Regions from separate parts of the Homo sapiens genome. Here region 2 is linked to region 1. The links come from fine-mapping of genetic effects on gene expression. A gene starts in region 1. The other region holds a variant in brackets. All regions are shown on one strand. Distances are from middle to middle. Region 1 holds the start of SYNM (synemin). Region 2 overlaps SYNM (synemin).

Region 1 (8,326 bases):
ATTGCAGGACTTTTATTTTTGCCATTAAGCTATTAATAGAAATGCATAGTTGTTAATATGTTAGCAATGTGGCTTTCAAATTTTTATTGCAAAAAATAATAAAGTATACACTGCTCCTTATCATAAATTCCAAATAGCAAATTGATTCTGGCAGAATGGTTTTATCGATTTTTGCAGAACTCTGGTGTTCCTAGTGCATTTATGATTACAGTTGACAAATGAATGCAGCACCATGAATATTGATTGATATTTTTGTTTACCTTAGCAAGAAAGACAAAGGTGAAATAACTGAGAAATTTCATTTATTCTTCATCATGATGTAACTTCTTTTTAAATTTTTTTTGTATTTTTAAATTTTGTTAAGACAGGATCTCACTCTGCTACCCAGGCTGGAGTGCAACGGCTCAATCATGGCTCACCAAAACCTCGATCTCCTGGGCTCAAGGAATCCTCTCACTTCAGCCTCCCAAGTAGCTGGGATTACAGGTGCATGCCACCATGCCCAGTTAATTTTTGTATTTTTTGTAGAGAGGGGGTTTTGCCATGTCCAGGCTGGTCTCGAACTCCTGAGCTCAAGTGCTCTGCATGCCTTGGCCTCCCAAAGTCTTGGTATTACGAGTGTAAGCCACCACGCCCAGCTATGAAGCAACTTCTTTCCTGATCTGGATACAAGTTTCGAGACACCGGACAAACATTTCCTCACGTTTTTGTGCTGTTCACAATTCAATAGCTAGACACACAACATACCACTAAATTTAATCTGCACTATTAACATACTCTCCACTGCTTTTAAAGGCTAGACAATCAACAAAACATCAAATCCACAAAAACAAGTCATTGGCTGATTTCTGTGTTGTAAATACTCAAGCTACCAACATGATGTCAGTGAATATGGAGTAGGGTAGTACACATTAAATGGCATTTCTATGGTGCAGGCACACTGCTCATTCATAACTTCAAGAGCAGATCATAGGAAAATGCAGTGAAATACTGAGGAAGTGATACGTTTTGAATATGTGTTTGCTCTTTTTGTATAATTAGTTGTAAGCTTCTATAATTAATTTTTAATAATGGCTGTGTTTAACAAGTGGTTCATAAAATTCTAAAAATTTAACAGTTGGCACTCACAAACCTGTGGGAGCCAACCGCAGTGCACCACTGCCAGGCTCCTGTGACTTCTGGCTTCCACAGCGGGAAGTATTGGCAAGAGAAGGGAGGCTTGGATGAAGGAAGAACTGGGTTTTCCTCCTCTTGCTCCCTCCTGGGATCCATTCTGCTCCTCTTTTCCAGCGCTCTGGGCTTCTCCAGGCTCAGCCAACACCCTAAGGCGCTAACGGCTTCTTAGCTTCTTGCTCTTGCTGGTCCCTGGTGCTTCCTCATCCCATCCATCCCCATCCCATCAATCATTCCCTTCCCTCTGAGTTTGCCTCTGCTTCCTGGCCAGACCCTGCCTGCTCAAGTCTGCTCTTGTGGTCACAACTCTAATACTTCTAGTCACTTCACCCCTCCGAGCTTCAGTGTTGTGAGGATTCAGTATGAAGCAGCAGGATATTATCCTGAAAGAGTAGCTGGGGGTACTTCCCCCCTCCCACCTCCCGGCCCTGCTAGTTCCTGATCCCCTATAACTCTTTCCCTACCGGGGCAGCTGCATGCTGGAGCAGTCAATTCCTCAGGGACAGGATTTACAGCAGAAATGGGGGAAAGGGTTTTGAGTTTCAAAGTCCAAGACCCTGAAGGGCACTGGGCAAAGAAAGACTAATGAGTCACTGCAAAGTGTCCTGCTGGGACTCACTGGTCCCTGAGAAGGCTCTCCCACCCTGCAGGGCTGCCCCCTGCCCAGCCAGGGGATGTGGGACAGCAGAACCCGTTAGCGTGGGGAGTCAAAGAGCTGAGAACAAACAGCTGCAGCGGAGTCCAGGCAACTGTGAGAGCCGCCCCCCCGCACCCCAATGTCCCAGAGGGGCCCAGGACCGGCAGGGTCTCCACATAGGTTTGGGCGATGACACCACAGCAGCTCTGGTGTTTGACAAGCAAAGGCCAGGTGTCAGTGTGCACCTGGGGGAATGGGAGGATGGACAATGATGGGGTGATGGGGGTCCAAATCCCCCTGTCCCACACCAAGGTGAATGAACCCAAGCACTGAATAAACCCACTTTCCACCCCCACTTAGTTTTAGCAGAAAAGGACAGGGAATTATTCATTGAAAGATATTAATTTCTACCACCTACAGAATGGGATCTCCAACATAGGGTCTCTAGAAAAAGGAAGGGCCACTTTCTGCCTTGCTTGTGATTGGAGGCTCATGGCTGTGACAAGGAGAGCACTAGAAGCTTTGTCAGAGGCCCTGGACCAGCTTGCTGAGTAGTCCACCTTTCCATGCCATCTGTAAAATACACTAACTGCTGGCCCTGCCATGAGGAGCCCTCTGGCCAGTGGATGACCGTCCAGGTCTCGCCCTGGGCACTTGTGTTGCCACAAGTTCAAGGGCACCCCAACCAAGGGTCAGCTGGTTTGTCCCTGTGAGCCTTAATGACACTTATACTGAGAACTGTCATTCATAAATAACTGCCATGAAAACTAATGAAATGCAAGTGTACAAAAAAGAGCTGTGGTTTCCATGGCAATTAAACTGAATACTTTCTTAGGGAAATGCTGGAAAGAAACAGCTGTCACATTAGGGGTGTGTGTGTGAGATTTGTAAAAGTTCGGGGAGATGTTAGATGTCTAGAAAGTTCTGTACTTGGAGCACTTTATGGTCTCTAAGTTTTCACTCCAAATGAAAGAAATTCGTTTTGGAAAATGTAATGTACTATGAGGGTAGCTTGTATAAGAAGGGCAACTGGGACTCCTGTCAACTGACATCAAGAGAAGTATTTTGCACATTAAAATACTGGTAAATGGATATATATTTATGTTTTAAGTTAAAAAGATTATTTAGGCTGGGCACGGTAGCTCACGCCAGTAATCCCAGGACTTTGGGAGGCCGAGGTGGGCGGATCACCTGAGGTCGTGAGTTCGAGACCAGCCTGACCAACATGGAGAAACCCCGTCTCTACCAAAAATACAAAAAAAAAAAAAAAAAAAAAAAAAAAAAATTAGCCAGGCGTGGTGGCGCTGGCCTGTAATCCCGGTTACTCGGGAGGCTGAGGCAGGAGAATCGCTTGAACCCGGGAGGCGGAGGCTGTGGTGAGCCGAGATCGTGCCATTGCACTCCAGCCTGGGCAACAAGAGCGACACTCTGTCTCAAAAAAAAAAAAAAAAAAATTAATGCACATGTATGTGTAATGTATATATATGAGATGAGGCCTCTCTCTGTTGCCCAGGCTGGAGCGCAGTGCCACAATCAGGTTCACTGCAGCCCTGAACTCCTGGGTTCGAGTAATCCTCCCGCCTCAGCCTCCCAAGCAGCGCGTGTGACACCACCACGCCAGGCTCCATATATATATATATATATATATATTTTTTTTTTTTTTTTTTTTTTGGTAGAGACAGGGTCTCTCTATGTTGCTCAGGCTGGTCTCGAACTCCTGGGCTCAAGCGAGCCTCCCACCTCGGCTTCCCAAAATGCTGGGATTATAGGCCTGAGCCACCGCGCCCGGCCCATATCGTTTTTTTAAAAATAGAAAAGCCACCAATCTCCAGGGCCTCGGGTAAGAAGTCGCTCCAAAATCGCCAGCACCACAGCAACTCAATAGGCTTCTATTTCCATCCACCAAGGCCAGGACACTCGTATGCTCCCGGACGCCCTCTCCGGCGTCCCTTCGCTGAGCCCGGCCTGGCTAGCCCGCCACCCCGCCCGCTGTTACCCGACTGCCCGCACCGACCACCTGCGGCCGCCAAGGTGCGGCAGGGGGCGCTGTGCGGCCGCAGAGGCCGCGCCGGGCCGCGCTCTGATTGGCTGGAGGCCGCGGCCCTCGCCCAGGCCGCCCGCCCAGTCTGCCCGCCCCGTCCGCTAAGTGCCTGGGCTCTCCCGCTCGCGTCCCAGTCTGCGGGCCTCCGGGGCAGCGGCGAGGCCGGAGCGTCGCGGCGGAGAGGACGAGACCGGGACAAGACCAGGGCAGGAGGGAGCCGGCCAGCCGCGAGAACCCCGCACGCCCGGCAAGATGCTGTCCTGGCGGCTGCAGACGGGCCCCGAGAAGGCCGAGCTCCAGGAGCTCAACGCCCGGCTCTATGACTACGTGTGTCGGGTGCGGGAGCTGGAGCGCGAAAACCTACTCCTGGAGGAGGAGCTGCGCGGCCGGCGCGGGCGAGAGGGCCTGTGGGCCGAGGGGCAGGCCCGCTGCGCCGAGGAGGCGCGCAGCTTGCGGCAGCAGCTGGACGAGCTGAGCTGGGCCACTGCGCTGGCGGAGGGCGAGCGGGACGCTCTGCGGCGCGAGCTGCGGGAGCTGCAGCGCCTGGATGCGGAGGAGCGCGCCGCCCGCGGCCGCCTGGACGCCGAGCTGGGTGCGCAGCAGCGCGAGCTGCAGGAGGCGCTGGGCGCGCGCGCCGCCCTCGAGGCGCTGCTGGGCCGGCTGCAGGCCGAGCGCCGAGGCCTCGACGCGGCCCACGAACGCGACGTGAGGGAGCTGCGCGCGCGCGCCGCCAGCCTTACCATGCATTTCCGCGCCCGCGCCACCGGCCCCGCCGCGCCGCCGCCACGCCTGCGGGAGGTGCACGACAGCTACGCACTGCTGGTGGCCGAGTCGTGGCGGGAGACGGTGCAGCTGTACGAGGACGAGGTGCGCGAGCTGGAGGAGGCGCTGCGGCGCGGCCAGGAGAGCAGACTCCAGGCGGAGGAAGAGACGCGGCTGTGCGCGCAGGAGGCAGAGGCGCTGCGGCGCGAGGCGCTCGGGTTGGAGCAGCTGCGCGCGCGGCTGGAGGACGCGCTGCTGCGGATGCGCGAGGAGTACGGGATACAGGCCGAGGAGCGGCAGGTCCGTGCGCGGGGATGGCGCGCTGACCCCATACCCGCTGCCGTCGCCCCAGCACCCTGCCCTTGACGGCGTGGGGCAGCGGCCCCTTCACCAGGGGCGCGGCGTCGCGGACCGGTAGGGCCCGCCCAGAGGGTGCCCGAATGGCATGGGGACCCGGACTCGGTCCGCTGGTCCATCGACTCAGCGGGCGAGCGCGGGGCGGCAGGTCCTAGCGGATAGCCCCGTCCTCGTCATGGGGTTAGGTGGCAGCTGCTTTAACTCTTGACAAGCGTGACTGGGCGCATCCTGATAGGCCACCCTGTTAGCTCTAGGTTTTCCTTCCATTTTCCGTGCTCCGTAGACTCAGTAGACCCAGATCTAAGAGTCAACCGAGAAACCTCTCTCACTTGCAGAAGTGACGGCTTATGGTAGCCCCGCTGTCTATAGCGCTCCTCAGGGGAAAACTCAAATTAATTTCCAAAACGGTTTTTATTTTGCCAATATGATTTCCCAGTTGGAAGCCGCAGTTGTGGCTCTCTGGGCGGCTGCCTTGTTTGATCTTGGGAGGGGCAGCAACCCTCATGCAGAACAGAGCTTGATCGAAGATGTTTTGCTCACAGCACACGCTGACGTCAGATCTCTGCGTAGTGTAAAAGTTGTGGGAAAGTGGGGCCCTTTGGCAGGATGTTATTACAAGTGCAGAGTGATATAAACAGTTACTATTTCAGGGAAGCAAACCCTCTGACACCGGCGGGGTGACACCTGTGGCTGATGTAAACTATGCCCAGTCCAGCCCTAGCGTTTGGCCCTCGCCCTGCCCTGCCTCAGCCAGAATTGGAAATATTCCCAAATCACACTATCAGTAGTTCTCAAAAGGACAGATGGAAATAACATCTGCACAATTTCACAAATATTTTAAGAGTACAGTTTGCAGCTGTGAGTTAAAGATTTGAGACTGACTTTTAAAAATTAGAAGTGAGAGGAACATGGGGGTTGTCATATGGAATGACTGCGGTGATGTGACAGGTATCCACAGGTGATGAGTAAATACCTGTTGATTCTCCCTGGGTCCCCAGCACTGCCCTAGACTTTCAGTATGCAAAGAGCTACAGGCTAGATGGGAAATCATAGAATGCAATATGGTACTACATTGGGATTTAATCTTTTGAGTTGTGGGTTTTGTTTGGCTTCCGCCTCATAACTTTTCAAAGTGTTCTCTTGGGGCTTTGCCATAGCTAGAGCAGGGACAGGGACTGACCCAGTGTGTACCGATTTCCACTTGTGAGCACTTGTGTCCCTTTGCAATGACAGTGGCCAGGGGTCTGAGTTCCACAGGTCCTATACTCGTTGTTGAGTGAAAGTTAAAAAGTGCCTTAATGTGGCATTCATGGAGATTTGACCAGTGGTTATTTTGACTCTCCAAAAAGGAGTATCTGTCAAACCTACTGCCCAGGGAACCCCTTTGTAGGGAACCCTCGCTACCAACTCAGGGGTCTGTGCTGTGCAGGCAGGTTTAGAAAATGCTGCTTTGAGCCACGCTGTGTGGACCAAATCGTCACCATGCGTTCACAGCCACAGCTCACTTGGCACATTTCAGACCTTCAAATTCTGGTTCCAGTGTTCTTTCTTAGCGGCAAAGCCCTTTTCCCCACTAATGAAACCTTCAGTGGAACTCGTAATGTGAGCCATATGAAAGCAGAGTTCCCCTGACTGGAGGAGACATGGGGACTTGAAGTGCAGTTAGAATCCTGTGCAGCCCTCCTTTGACACAGGGACTCCAGGGCCCACCGGGGAAGTGCTTTTCCTGAGGTCATACCTGCCCTCAGAGTGAGGCTGGGACCCCACTCTCCGTTTGCCATCCAGTGATACTTCTCTCTTGTTGGAATTTGCTGCTTTTTCCTAAAAGCAAAGAGCGAGGAAAATGTCAATAAGGACCTGGTTTTTTTTTTTGTTTTTTGTTTTGTTTTTTTTTTGGTTTTGGTTTTGGTTTTGGTTTTGGTTTTTTGAGACGGAGTCTTGCTCTGTCGCCCAGGCTGGAGTGCAGTGGCTGATCTCGGCACACCGCAACATCCGCTTCCTGGGCTCAAGTGATTCTCGTGCCTCAGCCTCCCGAGTAGCTGGGAGTACAGGATCCCACCACCCCGCCTGGCTAATTTTTGTATTTTTAGTAGATACAGGGTTTCACCATGTTGGCCAGCCTGGTCTCAAACTCCTGACCTCAAGTGATCCACCGGCCGTGGCCTCCCACAGTGCTGAAATTACAGGTGTGAGCCATGTGCCCGGCCATTTTTTTTTTCCAGTTCCAATTTGCAGAGGTTTTACTGCACTAAGTGTTACCAGTCACTACCTTGTCCATATACTGAATCTTCCCTCAGTTAACTTAAGTCAACTCCATTTCAAATTGCATTCCAGAAGATTCAGCACCAATCACAGAGATGCTAGGAAGTATGTGAAAGAGGGAGTATGGATGATTTAACCCCAAGCCTGTAATTTTTTTCGGGTTCTGTAGAAGCTTACTATGGGGAGAGTGAAAAAATCCTAAAAATGGGTTGAATTAGTATATGGTAATAAATATCTTATTACTAAGAGCCTTTAGCAAGTGCTTCGTGTGTGCCAGGTACCACAGATGCCCTTCACAAATATTCACTCTCAGTGCCCACACCAGTGTTACGAAGTGGGTACTAATATAAGCTCCATTTTACAGAGGAGGAAGCTGAGGCACATAAGTCACCTGATTAGTAAGTAGTTAAGCCAGGATTCAACTCAGGCTCTAGTGCCTGAGCAACTGACCGCTGGGCGTCCGTTTCTCTCTTCTGTCTGTTTGATCAGAGAGAAACCTTTAACCAGTATTCTTGCATTCATAGCATAATGATAATTGCTCTTCCTAAGGGCTAGCCCGAGGTACTCTGCTGATTTCAAGTCCTAAAATGCTTTTAGACCCCTCCAGCTGGCTGAATAGTTTTGGCATTAAAACTATTTTCTTTCATTTCTTTTTTTCTGTGTTCCATGTGCTTTAATGCCCCCCTCCCCTGGAGGCAGGAGCTGGAGGCAGCAGAGGGTGCTGCCACATTGTGCCCAGCTCTCCCTGCCTCTGGCTATAGCTTCTGTGGCTCAAGGGGGAAGATGCTTGCTAGGATTCTACTTGAGGGGAAACTGGTCCTTCCCAGATGGCCCATGCGCCTTCACTGTATGAGGCGGTAGTCATTGGCCTGCCCCAGGCCTGGCCTCAGATTTGCCCGAGAAGAGTTTGCTGAACTGACATCCAAGTTCCCAAATGTGATCTAGATCACTTGAAGCCTGAGTGACACACCCAGGCTGCAGGAGGGGGCTTCAGAAAACACTTGAAGACATTTGCGATAAAGTGGAGACCAGCTTCACCCTGCAAACACGGAGATTTTTGCTTATGAAAGTGAGCCCTTAGCTGCTGAGGCTGA
Region 2 (8,326 bases), 21 kb after region 1:
TTCACGTGTCTATTCAAAGGAAAACGTTTCTTAGGGGTTTCCTCAAGGTTTTGCAGAAGTACATTTTGTTTTTTTAAGTTAGTTCCCACCTTTTTTTGGAAGACTTATAAAAATGTGTGAACACTGAGACTTATCTAGTTACTAGATAAAATACTTGAAGTGAATAAAAATCTTGTAGTTGTAAGAATAGAGTTGGGCATGGTGGCTCACGCCTGTAATCCTAGCACTTTGGGAGGCTGAGGCAGGTGGATCGTTTGAGCCCAGGAGTTGGAGACCAGCCTGGGCAACATGGTGAAACCCCATCTCTACAAACGATACAAAAACAACTATTTGGGTGTGGTGGCACGTGCCTGTAGTCCCAGCTACTTGGGAGGCTGAGGTGGGAGGATCACCTAAGCCCAGGAGGCAGAGATTGCCGTGAGCTGAGATGGCACCACTGCACTCCAGCCTGGGCGACAGAGCAAGATCCTGTCTCTACATAAATAAATAAATAGAATATATAATTGAAAGGATCGACCAGTACCTTTGGTTGCTGGTCAAATAAATGAGTTAACATTCAGTTAACTATAAAATACAGATGGTCCACAGTCCCTTCCCTTGTTGACTCATTTTAGTTAGCTGGAAATCAGTTTTCTTTGGAGGATGTAGAAGGAGGTGGGGACGACGTGATCGCTGATGTTTAGTGAGCTCTTACTCTGTGACAGCCATGGTTCTGAGAACTTTCTGCTTCTTGATTAATTCCTACTGCAAACCTGTGAGTTCTCTCCATTTCAGAAATAGGGAAACTGAGTCACAGTGGGTTTGAGCGGCCTGCCAGGGTCACAGAACTAGGAAGTGGCAGGTCTCAGATCTGAATCCAGACATCCTGACTCCAGAACTTTGTCCTGCGCTTGCTTCCTCTCTGTTTTATGAGTGATGTTTGTCTCTGTTGATTATCTGGTTTTTTTTTTTTTCAGTCTCTAGTATTGACCTAGAGATGGCTCTGGGATGTGGTTGAATACTGACCCCAGAAGCGATGCCCGGAAATGGCCCAGCACTGCCACGTTACCTCCTGTTATCCTTCCTGTGAAGCCGGTGGTCTCACCTTTCCCGTTCAGGTGGCGTTGCTGGTCATGGGAATGGAACTCCCCTCTGCCCCCTCCCTTCTGTTCCCTGGTCTTCCCGGTGACTGACCAGCCACGGGCCCGCATCTGGGGTGACCCAGGCAGTGCGTCCACTCTGTGTGGAGCTTGGCTTCCTCTGTCGCAGTGAGGAGTCGAGGGAGGCGGCTCTGCGGCTCCTTCTCCAGCTCCGGAGCCTCCCTTTCTTCTCTGCACTTCTCCACCTGCTGTTTGCTAGGAAGCACCCCGTGAATCACCCACAGGCCCCGGCCCCGGCCCCAGCAGGCTCCCGCACAGACACGGCTTCTGGGAACATCCTGACAGTGCCTCATTTATGGGGCTGCACAGAGCAGTGGCCTTGTGCCCACGGTGCTGAGTCACGGCGGATTGTTCAGCAATTCCATTAGGATAATCTATCCCAGACAGAGAGCCTTGCCTTGGAGCCTGCTCAGGACGCCGGGTGGCCCATTAGGGCCTGGCGCCTGGCCAGAGGCCACATGACAGCCGGCTTCTGCACTGTGGGTTTGTCCTGGGCTCCTTAATGAGGCCAGGGACTTGAGTTTTCTTGCACTTTTGCTTATTTTCCTGCATAAGGGGCCACCAACCTGTGGAGCTGTGTGAAATGCCCACAATAGCCCATGACTCAGGGGATTGGCATTTCTCACAGTCCCCGAGGCTTGGGGGCAGATTTCCTCCACCGCTCTCAAAATAACCAGGTTTGATTGCAGCCTCAGAGAACATGCTACCCATTTCTTAAAGTGGTACGAACCTATTCCTTAAAAATGTCCCTTGCAGAGCTTTAGAGGAAGTCGTGGTTTCTGGCTTCTCCTCAGAGTCTTGTTGATGCTTTCGCCGTGTAGTCCTGGGGCTGTGCGGAAGGAGGGTGGCTGCCATTGGGCTGGATGTGCTACCCAAAGCATGAACTCAATGGCCAGTGCCCAGCCGGGTGCTCACAGATAGTAAAGGTGACATGTGTCGCTGCCTGCTAGGATCCGGCCATTGAGAAGGGACACAGATGAGGGATAGCTCCTTCTCCAGCAGGAGCTTCTTACTTATAGGAGAGCTCTGCAGGGCCATTTTGGATGAAATCACCAAGAGAATTTATTTTCATTAATATGGCCCGGAGGGTCTATCTGTAGGATTTGTGCTTTCTGAAATTTGTGTGCAATACCATGGTCTCTGGCCTCACTGGGAGGCCTAGTGGTATCGCAGGGGAGGGGGCTGAGAGCTCAGGCTGCCTGGGTTTGCATTTTTCTCTTTACTGGTGAGCCGTATGCCCTTGACCAAGACGCTGTCTCTGCACCCCAGTCTTCTCACCTCTAGAGCGAGGATGCAGCCACAGGCCCTGTGTTGGGGGTGGCTTCGACGGTGTAAGTACATGAGTGACCACAATGCCTGGTGCTCAGTGTCAGCCAGGGATGGTAAAGGCCTAGAAAGGGGAAGCTGTGGGGCTGTATCTTGTCCCCTGAACCCAGCCAGAAGCCCCACGCAGGGCTGGTGCCTGTTTCGTGTGGGTCCTGAACTCTATGAAGGTTTGGTGATGCTTTGGAATTCTGGAAGAGGAGCAGATGCATTCCCTTTGGAGGGTGGGGAAGACGTATTTTTCCCTGGACAGCAACATACCTTCCGTTCTAACTTGGGCAGCTCAAGGGAGAGGCCCCGTGGTACCCGAGGTTCACAGCTGAGCCAGGCCGGGAGGATCTGAACTAGAACCTAGTCTTTCTCCCCACGCCCTGCCCTGGCTCCTCAGCTGCAGGACGCCACCCCTTCTGCTGCCGTCATCCTGGGGTGCAGAGCCTTGGGGCCTGGCTTTTACCCCGAATGTTCCTCTGATTATATAGACCTCAGAACTTTCTCAGCAGTGAAAGCTGTTTGCGTTCCTGGAACCTACAATGCTTGGTCATGAGGGCGTGGGATTAATGGGTTGGTGTCCTGTTTCCTGGCCTCTGCCCTGAGCGAAGGGCTGGGGCTCTGGACTCGGGCCTCTGCACATGCCCCGTCCACACACAAGCATCCCGCAGTCACTGCGCCGGGGCAGGCCCGCTGTGTGCGCCTTCGCGAGAGTGCCTCATGCCTCCTTTGCTTTCTTCCAGCTGCTCACAGGGCTCTCGTGTTCATGGGGCTCACCATGTTTCAACAGATGGAAATACAACTCAGTGCAGTTTGTCCAAGCTGCCAAGTCCCTGCTCGGGTGTGGGCACCCTGCTCCGTTTTTGTGCCCAGCTCTCAGCCATAAGATTGGCATTTCTCAGTGGGCTCTTGTTCTGGATGCCTTTTGCCGTGTGCAGTGTATTTCTTGGAACCGGAGTTAGTGACTTCACATGTTGCTCTAGCAACTGAGAAACTGTTGCACCCAGAGCTGCCAGCAGCCCAAGGGGTCTTCGCGAGTGACTGGCTGACAGGCATCCCGGTGCTAAGCCCCTCGCCAGCAGGCTGGGTCTGCTGGGACCACTCTCCTCAGCTCTGGGATCTGAAGCAGTAGACGTGAACAACCTAATGAAACTTCTATAATTTTAGAACTTTGGCGCAGACATAGTCAAAGAAATCACCTTGTTGGGTACTTCTCACCATTTTATTAAAGGAGATAACAGGATGCCAATTTGGATGAAGTGAGGCCCCTGGGGGTGGCATGGGGAGGGGCTACTGACGGGGGGCGCTTTAGCACTACCTTTTCCGTCTGCCTGCCTTCTACTTCTTTTTGTCGTCTCCAAGGTGACCCCCTGGAATGCAGTTTGAAACCACAGATGCAGTCTGGCTGCCTTATAAGTGTCAGTCCCTGCCGTCTCCTGGTCAGCCCTCTGCAAGCTGCCCCCACCAGCTGTGACTCCAGGAAGAACCCAGTGGGGGGTGTAGCTGCTCTGGGGCCCTCTAGCCTGGGGCCCACATCTCTCCAGTGCCCCCTTGCTCCTGCTCCTCTTCACCCTGGACTGAGAAAGCTTTCTAGAAGGGCTTGGCTCGCCAGTACTGCCGAAGCCCTGGCCTGGTCATTTTGTTCACTGGGCTAGTAGGGGTTGAGCGCCATGCTGGCTGCCAGGGATGTGGCGGTGAGCAGAGCAGGTGGCCTGGCCCAGGTCTGCTGAGGCTGGTGGGTGGGCTTGCCAGCCCTATGGTGCAGCCCTGCCCAAGTCTCCTCTTCAGGTAGAAGTCCTAAAACAGGTGACACTATGGTCATTGGCCGCATACCACGATACGTTTTATTAGAGGCACTTCTTACTCTTTCGTTTCCTAATGAATTATGTTTGTAAATTATTTTTACAGGGCCTTATTGGAAGGAGAAAGTAATCCAGAGATAGTGATCTGGGCTGAGCACGTTGAAAACATGCCGTCAGGTAAGTAAAAGCTAATGACTTGACTTAGCTTTAGGCATCTGAACTGTTTATTCTGTGGCTAGATAGTAAAGCACCATCATCGGGAAGAACGGGTTAGATATGGTGTTTAGATAACAGGAGTTCATCTCTCATTTAAGTACCAAATAGATTTTAGTTTAGTGTGACATAATTTCAATTATGTGAATGAGAATGTTTGGGAAGGTGCTTGATAAACTTGGTCCCTCTCTCGACAGGATGCAGGAGCGGAAGGGGCTAATGGCACTGGGCAGTGTGAGGGCGAGCAGGAGTGCACCTGAACTTGTGTTTCACACCCCTGGAAGGGACACTCCTTCCATTTCCAGACCAAGGGGTTATGGTTGTTACACCTGTAGAGGGAGGTATGGCCTTGGATGGCAGGCAGGCAGCACTCTGGAACCTGCTACCCTAACAGGAAGAGAGATGGGAATAGTTACATTGTTTACACCACCCTAGGTTGTTGTGAGCAGCTCAGGAAAATGTGTCCTGGTGCCTTGAAGACTACCTTATT[G/C]AGGCCAAGAGCCTCAGGACAGGGCCCATCCTTCCTATGGCTGCAGAACTGACATAAGATCATTAATGTTCATTAGAAAGATCCTAAGAAACTGAGGGATAACTTGTTTTTTAACCTTTTAAAGCCCTATAGAATCTTGAAGAGCTCTGGCTAAGCAAGTGTCGATTAAATTACGTATAGAATGTTGAGTTCACACCTTAGGCAGCAGCATGGTTTTAGTCTTCATTGTTTCTTTTAGGCAACTCATGGATTTGACATGTCACTGGGTTGAGAAGAATATTTGGGTTCTAGTCATCTATAACTGGAAGGGATCTGGTCTTAGACAACATGCAGCAAATTTTCTTTCTAATTTTGAGAGTAAGTTTGAAAAAAGCAAAGGTGTTCATGGAAGGGTAGGCATTGGTCAACCTGCCTGGCATCAGTTAACGTGTGACATCTATAAAACAAGAATTAACTCCCCAGATTTCAAGGTTTACTTAGTTACCTACATTTTTAACCTGTGGATACCTAAGTTTGGACATCCATCATGTAACCTAGAGAGAGGGGAGAAGGAAGAAAAGGGCCCAGGAGCTCCGAGGAAGACCAACAGTCTAAGCCAGGGCCTTGCTCAAATTTTCCCAGTTGTGATTTTGGGGCCGAGGGAGAGCACACAGAGGGGCTAACAGCTGTTGCTGTTAACTTGCTTCATTCATTCATTCATTCATTCATTCATTCATTATTTTTCAAGCTTCTTGAAGGAAATAGAGACTTAATATTTGTAAACTAAATTTATTCTGGCAATTACATATTATGCCAAAAGCTTTAGAATAAAAATTACTAGTTGGGAATTTTTATTAGACGTTGAGCTTCTAGATAGTTCTGTTCTGTTGAGTAAATATACAGATAAGTTCCTAAGTAGTGAACTTATCAATACTTGTTAGTGTGCTTGTGTTTCTTTTATAATATTGCATAAAATAATGTTGGCCGCTTGCCCGCTAGCCGGTGGACCTAAACCCAGTCTGTAATCTTCCATGTTTCTTGTTGAATCTTAACTGTAAATGAGATGGTCCCTGCACTATTGCCTGGGGGTTCATCTTCTGGGACTTCTCAGTTGGATCAGTAGGATCAGTTGACCTGAAAAGAGGAGTCTTGTAGAAAATGTCCTGGCCTGGTCTCTTTCCTGTATCTTGGGATCTGTGCAAAGGAGGCCTCTGGCCTTGGCTCCATAAGGGAGAGAGAAAGCCCTGTCCCCGCTGAGCCAGCTGGGGTGTGGGTAGACACCAGGGGCACTCTCGGGGTGGACGGTGCTCCTGGCTGCGTTCTAACCACCAGCTGCCATTCCTAAAGAGCGGTTTCCCCTGCTGGGGTGTGGACACCCCAAAGGGTAGCACTGTCTGCAAACAGCCTGGAGCAAAGCTGGAAGCCCTGAGGACTGCCTCCCAACTTCAGGATCATGACACTAAGACAGACCGGGGTGTTTCTGCACTGGCTCCTTTTCAGATAAGTGTTAAATGTAAAATAAAAGATCAGAAAGCTTAAAGAAGTTAAATTCTTTAATACTTGTTGGCCCAATATGGAAATCAGTGAAACAGAAGAGTATATTAAATAGTGGAGGATAATGCTATTTGGTGTTTAATAATGACACACTTTGTAATTACAGAGCTCTTCTCTGCTACAGTAAATTAAACTTACCTCAAAAAGCAGAAATTAATGATTTCAAAATATAAGATTGTGAAATTTCAGCCACAAAAACGAGCACCTCTGACCTCTCTGGGATATGCATTGTGCTTTATGATTAATGTTAAGATGAGTGAGTATTTTAATATCAGTAACTGGAGAAACGTGTTAGGCTGAAGTATTTGTAGTGCTACATTTTATTGTAACAGGATTTTGTAAACTGCCAAAAAATAATTTGGGCACCAAATATAACTTATCTTTATAATGAGCTTTCTGTGGTAACAGTGTATATTTATTATGATGGAATGGGATTTGGCCTGCAACAATGCTTGTAGATGGAAAAGGGTAATGATGACTGTCATTTTAATGAATGCTTTGTTCAATTTCTACAGAATTCAGAAACAAATCCTATCACTATACCGACTCACTACTACAGAGGGAAAATGAAAGGAATCTATTTTCAAGGCAGAAAGCACCTTTGGCAAGTTTCAATCACAGCTCGGCACTGTATTCTAACCTGTCAGGGCACCGTGGATCTCAGACGGGCACATCTATTGGAGGTGATGCCAGAAGAGGCTTCTTGGGCTCGGGATATTCTTCCTCGGCCACTACCCAGCAGGAAAACTCATACGGAAAAGCCGTCAGCAGTCAAACCAACGTCAGAACTTTCTCTCCAACCTATGGCCTTTTAAGAAATACTGAGGCTCAAGTGAAAACATTCCCTGACAGACCAAAAGCCGGAGATACAAGGGAGGTCCCCGTTTACATAGGTGAAGATTCCACAATTGCCCGCGAGTCGTACCGGGATCGCCGAGACAAGGTGGCAGCAGGTGCTTCGGAAAGCACACGGTCAAATGAGAGGACCGTCATTCTGGGAAAGAAAACAGAAGTGAAAGCCACGAGGGAGCAAGAAAGAAACAGACCAGAAACCATCCGAACAAAGCCAGAAGAGAAAATGTTCGATTCTAAAGAGAAGGCTTCCGAGGAGAGAAACCTAAGATGGGAAGAATTGACAAAGTTAGATAAGGAAGCGAGACAGAGAGAAAGCCAGCAGATGAAGGAGAAGGCTAAGGAGAAGGACTCACCGAAGGAGAAGAGCGTGCGAGAGAGAGAGGTGCCGATTAGTCTAGAAGTATCCCAGGACAGAAGAGCAGAGGTGTCCCCGAAAGGTTTGCAGACGCCTGTGAAGGATGCTGGTGGTGGGACCGGTAGAGAGGCAGAAGCAAGAGAGCTACGGTTCAGGTTGGGCACCAGTGATGCCACTGGTTCTCTGCAAGGCGATTCCATGACAGAAACCGTAGCAGAAAACATCGTTACCAGTATCCTGAAGCAGTTCACTCAGTCTCCAGAGACAGAAGCATCTGCTGATTCTTTTCCAGACACAAAAGTCACTTACGTGGACAGGAAAGAGCTTCCTGGGGAAAGGAAAACAAAGACTGAAATAGTTGTGGAGTCTAAACTGACTGAGGATGTTGATGTTTCCGATGAAGCTGGCCTGGACTACCTTTTAAGCAAGGATATTAAGGAAGTGGGGCTGAAAGGCAAGTCAGCCGAGCAGATGATAGGAGACATCATCAACCTCGGCCTGAAAGGGAGGGAGGGGAGAGCAAAGGTCGTCAACGTGGAGATCGTGGAGGAGCCCGTGAGTTATGTCAGCGGGGAGAAGCCGGAGGAGTTTTCCGTCCCATTCAAAGTGGAGGAGGTCGAAGATGTGT

What was found.
Region 2: its variant is fine-mapped to the expression of SYNM in whole blood (INTERVAL, PIP 0.98).

The regions. Positions count from the first base shown.
Region 1 is chr15:99,101,097-99,109,422 of GRCh38, forward strand. SYNM (synemin) reads left to right here and starts at 3,984. Exons shown (of 4, transcript NM_145728.3): 1 at 3,984-4,913. The coding sequence starts at 4,104. It overlaps SYNM-AS1 (SYNM antisense RNA 1), which reads right to left and starts at 4,781. Exons shown (of 3, transcript NR_187219.1): 1 at 4,592-4,781. RefSeq lists silencers at 3,734-4,643, 4,924-5,093.
Region 2 is chr15:99,122,364-99,130,689 of GRCh38, forward strand. It overlaps SYNM (synemin), which reads left to right. Exons shown (of 4, transcript NM_145728.3): 3 at 4,359-4,429; 4 at 7,004-8,326. Among named protein-coding and RNA genes, the nearest start is that of TTC23-AS1, 13 kb to the right of the region's middle. The variant G/C (reference allele first, on the strand shown) is at 4,956.